Regions from separate parts of the Homo sapiens genome. Here region 1 is linked to region 2. The links come from fine-mapping of genetic effects on gene expression. A gene starts in region 2. The other region holds a variant in brackets. All regions are shown on one strand. Distances are between the middles of the regions. Region 1 overlaps EFR3B (EFR3 homolog B). Region 2 holds the start of POMC (proopiomelanocortin).

Region 1 (2,500 bases), 40 kb before region 2:
AGCCAATACAAATAAAATATGCAATAGGTTCTTAATTCTGTTATATATTATGCACAGAAGAAAGGAATTACATCAAAATGCCAATAACAGTTATGTTTGATAACAAAGATAACAGTGGTAGTGGTGGTGGTAGTGGTAAATCTTCTCTTCTCTATACTTTTCTATGATTAGTATGTATTATTTTATAACCAGAAAAAAGGTTTTATAAAAAAGAAAGAAAGAAACTTCAGTCTGAAATAAATGGCTAGTAAAGAGGGCTCCCTCCCACAGAGCTGTGCTGACCCTGGGTTCACATAGCAGGGACTGGGGGTGTACAAAAGGGGCTCCTGCTGTGCTGTTACTCAGTTTCCCCTCTGGTTAACCCTAGCTCCAAGCCGACACCCCTTTGTGCCCAGAGAGCCTGCAGCTCTGTGCCTCTCCCTCTGGATCCGCCTCCCCCTGCCCCCGCAAGTTGCTCACAGCCTCGGATTCTGCTTCATCAGTTCTTGGCAGCGTTTTGAGCTCTTACATCTTGGGCCCAAGCTGGAACAACCCCAGCTAAGTACTAAAGATGGGGAGCTGGAGCATCCAGCACCCTAGGGCTGGAGCCCAGATGGTACCAGGGCAAGGGCAGCCTGGGAGTCTCCAAGATGATTAAAAAGACATGGCTTCCTGGGCTCATGTCTGCCAGCACCAGGAGGTCTCATGAGAGTAGCAGCTGGTCTCCATTCTGCCTTCTGATGGACAAATGTATCCCTGACTCCTAAGCTGTGCTCTTCTCTTAGCCACCGAAGCTGGACTTCTCAGGGCTAGAGGACTTCCGAGTCCCACTTCACCCTTTTCCTTACAGAATTCGAATGTCAGGCATCAAAGGCCTGCAAGGGGTGGTGAGGAAGACGGTGAATGATGAACTGCAGGCCAATATCTGGGACCCACAGCACATGGATAAGATCGTTCCATCACTGCTTTTCAATCTACAGCATGTAGAGGAGGCAGAGAGGTAAGCAGGCCGGGATGGGGCAGGACAGTAGATATAATCAACCCTCCAAGGGCTGCTTGGGAACCACATGGTTTGGGTTGGTCAGTAAAACTCAGCTACAAGGCCAGGGACATGGCTTTGTGGCTTGTTCTGCAGTGAGTCCAAAGCTGGCTCCCTAGAAGCCATGGGTCTGACTTTGTGCCAGCCCACAGTGTCCCTTAACATGTGCGTTACCGAAGGAGGACAGTGTTGGTGCTGGGCTCCCTGGTGGGTAAATCTGTTGGTAATAACACACAGAACCAAGAGTCTGGTTACCTTTGTCTCCCTGGAAGCAGGGCCAAGGAGGCTTTAAGATGCCTTTTGTGGGCCGGGCGCGGTGGCTCACGCCTGTAATCCCAGCACTTTGGGAGGCTGAGGCGGGCAGATCACGAGGTCAGGAGATCGAGACCATCCTGGCTAACACGATGAAACCGCGTCTCTACTAAAAAAAAATGCAAAAAAATTAGCTGAGC[G/C]TGGTGGCGGGCGCCTGTAGTCCCAGCTACTCGGGAGGCTGAGGCAGGAGAACGGGAGCCCGGGAGGCAGAACTTGCAGTGAGCCGAGATCGCGCCGCTGCACTTACAGCCTGGGCGACGGAGCGAGACTCCGTCTCAAAAAAAAAAAAAAAAAAAAAAAAAAAAAAAAAAAAAAAAAGATGCCTTTCATGGCTCCGATCACTGCGGACTTTCCATCTGGACCTTCCTTCCTCTGTTGCTTCCTGATGCTATTTCAGGCCCTGAAAACGTGCATGCTTGACCAGCCCGCAGCCACTCAGTAAGAGCTTGCAGATACTGGGTTTTAATCCTGGATCCCCTAAGCATGGGATTCATTCCTGTCCCTGCACCCTCATTTTTCCCCTCGGTGAAATGGAATGGGGAGAAAGGCCCACGTTGCTGTCCCACCTGGGCTATCTGTGCACTAGGCTAGTTAGGTCGGTTGATCCCAGGCTACTAGAGCTAGACTCGGGTCGACGGGGGCGGGGGCGGGGGCGGGGGCGGGGGCGGGGCGTGGGGTGGGGCGTGGGGTGGGGTGGGGTTCGTATGCCATCTGGTGGCTGTTTCTGGAATAGCATCTCACTGACAAGCTGCTGTGGTCTCTGGGCTGGGAGTCCTCCGGCTCCTGTTCTGTCCAGATGTGGGCCCACTCCCTGTGACTTGAGTATCATTGACTCTTGCCTGAGCCAACCACTGTGCCTTTCCTTTTCCCTCCCTCTCTTTCCTCTCCTTTCTTCCACTTCTGTTTTGTTTTTTGCCTCCCTTTCCTATCTTCATCTCCCATCTCCTTTTCCTTCTGAAGTCTTAGGTGCATCAAGACACACATGTTCTACACCTCACCTGGCCCATGGGGCTCAGAGCATCCTTCCCACAGTGGTACATCTGGAAATCTTTAAGGATTTCCAGAAAAAGAACTTTATCTTTTCTTCTCCGGTCTTCCCCCACTTCCCCCAGTGGGGGCTTCTTTACCCCCATTTAATTTCTGACAGCTGTGACGCCTCCCCTATTGCCT
Region 2 (2,983 bases):
ACACACACTTTTATTTTCCTTGGCTCCTTCCAGCCATTCTGTAAGAACCCTCCCTGCCCCATTTAAACATGAAGAATTTGGGGAATCCAAATGCCAAGTGGACTGTCTCTCCTTCGCTGGAAACGCCCCTTACCTGAGCCTTGATCATTCCAAATGGCTGCCCGTGCCCTCAACCCAGGATCTGCGCCATAAACCGTCCACCCCGGTTCTGTTGAGGGCATCCGAAACTAGACAGTGCGTTTCAGGATCTAGGACAGCTCCCGCCCCGGCCACCTGTTTTTAACCCCAGCTAGGTCTTGGAGAGAAGAGACCCAACTATTCTGCATTGTAATTGACCCAGTTATCATGTAATTATCATAGCGCGGCCACCTCGGGTGCGCTAAGGTGGGCAAGGAAACAAGGATTCAGGGGTCTGAATCCGAAAAAATCCGGAAGGCAGGGCGTTCATTATGACTTTTATCCTTTTCTCTGCTGCCCCGTTTCCAACATTAATTTGCGATAGCGTGTATGGAATTTGACTTTCAAGATGTGACACCTATCCTGGAAACTGGGAGCAAGAGATACTAAAAGACCGGGCTGGCCGGGGGCGGTGGCTCGCGCCTGTAATGCCAGAACTTTGGGGGGCCAAGGCGGGCGGATCACCTGTTGTCGGGAGTTTGAGACCAGCCTGACCAACATGGAGAAACTCCGTCTCTACTAAAAATACAAAAATTAGCCGGGCGTGGTGGCGCATGCCTGTAATCCCAGCTACTCGGGAGGCTGAAGCAGGAGAATCGCTTGAACCCGGGAGGCGAAGGTTGCGGTGAGCAGAGATCACCCCTTTGCTCTCCAGCATGGGCAACAAGAGCGAAACTCCGTCTCAAAAAAAAAAAAAAAGACCGGGTTGTCCCAAGACCTCCTAGCAAGCTCTCGGAGCCTCCGGACCGCCGCGAGCCCCTGGGGGAGAGGAGGCCGCCGGCTCCCTGGAGACAGCGCCTGCAGCTTCGCGGCCGTCCGCCCAGGGGCCGGACGTGGGCCCTCCAGCTCAGCTACTGGCGGCTTCTCATGCCGCAGTCGGCGCAGAAAGTTTGTCGAGAACTCGGGACCGCGGAGAGCCAGAGGCGCCCAGGTCCGCCTTCGGAGCCGGAGCCGGCCGACTGCATCGCGAGGACGGGGACAGGGGATCCCGGGGAAAGAGCACGGGTCCCCCACGCTGCGCCCTTACCTGTCTCGGGAGGCTGCTCTCTGAGGGCGGGGACGCTCGGCGGCCTCTCTCGGTCGCGGCTCTTCTTCCCCTCCTTCGCCGCCGCTTGGTCCCGCGCTCCTCTGTCCTTATATACTTGCCGAGCTCTCCTGGTGGGCGCGGGACTTTGACCTTCCCGGCAGCACAAGGAGCAGCTCCCCGGGCCAGGGGAAGGGGGGCCGCGGGGCGTGGGAGGGGGGCTTCCAGACGGGGGACGAGCGCGGGGAGACGCGCTGGAAAGGGGCTGGAATTAGCACTGTCCTGCCGAAGGCGCACCTGGCCGCTCGCCCTCAGGAAGAACTTAATTATGGATGGCGTTGGGTCTCCGCTTAGAACGGGCGGGAGGCTTAGCACCCCCGTGTGGGGCAGGCCGGGCAGCCTCTGAGGTCGTTGAGGCGAGGGTGAAGTTACCTGCGTGCGTGCTGGGGCTGGCATCTGCCTGGTTCGCATTTGGCGGTAAATATCACCGTCTGCACACGGGGAGGCCTCCGATTTCCCCATTGTTTGGAAACTGTGATGTGGAAGTCGTGGGGAATCATATTCTCTCTGTTCCACTTTGGGGAGGGGAGGAGGGAGCAGAAGTCAGGAGCCGTCTTGTGGGTGTGAAGGTGAGTTGCACTGCTCCCCTGGGGCCTGCTCTCCAAGGGCCTGGTTTAGGGGAGGCTCCCTTCCGTGTCCCAAGCCTCAAGGAAAAAGTCCTGTTAACCTAAACCATTAAATGGGGAGAGGGTGATGCTGTGAAGAGCAGCTGAAGTGCTTTCCCTGTGGCCTCTGATCCCTCCCTTTGCCATGAGCTGGCAGGGTGGTCTGGGGACTCAGACAATTTTCAACATCCCCCTTGGCCCTGGAGTTCTGGCTTGGCTTTAGTTCCAAATATCAGACCAGAGAGAAGAGTACAGCACTCAAACCAAGCTAAGAGACTCTACCTTAACCTGGAGTAAATAAACAAAACCAAATTGTGCGATGTGGTGGGTGTGGGAGGGAGTATTGGGACTAAACTGGACTTCAAATCAAGACACTTGCTTAATCTGCCAAATGCCAGAACTTTCCTGATTCCCCATGAGATGCTCTTTTGGACTCCAGGACTCTCTTGTGGATTCAGCTTTTCTGGTGACATTGGCTTTACATTCAGCAATCCTTTCCCTTTGGACCACAAGAGAGATCCAAGCTCCGTCACAGTAGACAAGGTGCTTCATCACCCGGCTTTGGCCCCTTTCCAGGGCCATTTCCCAGTTCTCCACCTTGCATCCTGGCACTTCAGCATCCACAACATTCACACTGCTAGAACATGGCTTTCTTGGGTCTCCATTGTCCAAGCTGTTCCCCCAACTAGAACATCCTTCCTCTCTCCAGCCATCCAGGAGCTTGACTCACATCAAGATGTAGCCCATCCATCAGCCCCTGTTCTCTGAAGCCCTCTTTGGCCACTTTTCCTACCAGGGGCATGAGGCATGACCTCCTCTGCCTTCCACAGAAGTCCATCCCCATCTTGTCAGTGCAAGTGGCTTGCACTAATTCACTTCTGTCCCCATTTTTTTAATCTTCCATCCACCCCACGACCACCATCAGGTTTGTAAACTCTTTCAAGCAGATGGTGGTTTTGCCTTATTTTACTTTGTGTTATTTTTGTAACTTCAGGAGGCTGCTGGTGGCAGCAGATAAAACAAACCAGGAAAAATCCAAATGGACCCAACTTCTTTAACTGGGTTCCTTCTTTCTTTTCTTCTCTCTCTCTCTCATTCTGTTTGTTTGTTTTTGAAT

Evidence for each region. PIP is the estimated chance that this variant, and not a neighbour inherited with it, causes the effect.
Region 1: its variant is the best candidate, but not a certain one, in a credible set for the expression of POMC in whole blood (INTERVAL, PIP 0.86).

What each region holds. Positions count from the first base shown.
Region 1 is chr2:25,127,354-25,129,853 of GRCh38, forward strand. EFR3B (EFR3 homolog B) reads left to right here. Exons shown (of 23, transcript NM_014971.2): 6 at 830-979. Among named protein-coding and RNA genes, the nearest start is that of POMC, 40 kb to the right of the region's middle. The variant G/C (reference allele first, on the strand shown) is at 1,471.
Region 2 is chr2:25,167,294-25,170,276 of GRCh38, forward strand. POMC (proopiomelanocortin) reads right to left here and starts at 1,287. Exons shown (of 3, transcript NM_000939.4): 1 at 1,205-1,287. RefSeq lists a promoter at 1,161-1,973, cis regulatory regions at 1,312-1,324, 1,390-1,563, 1,564-1,589 and an enhancer at 1,384-1,403.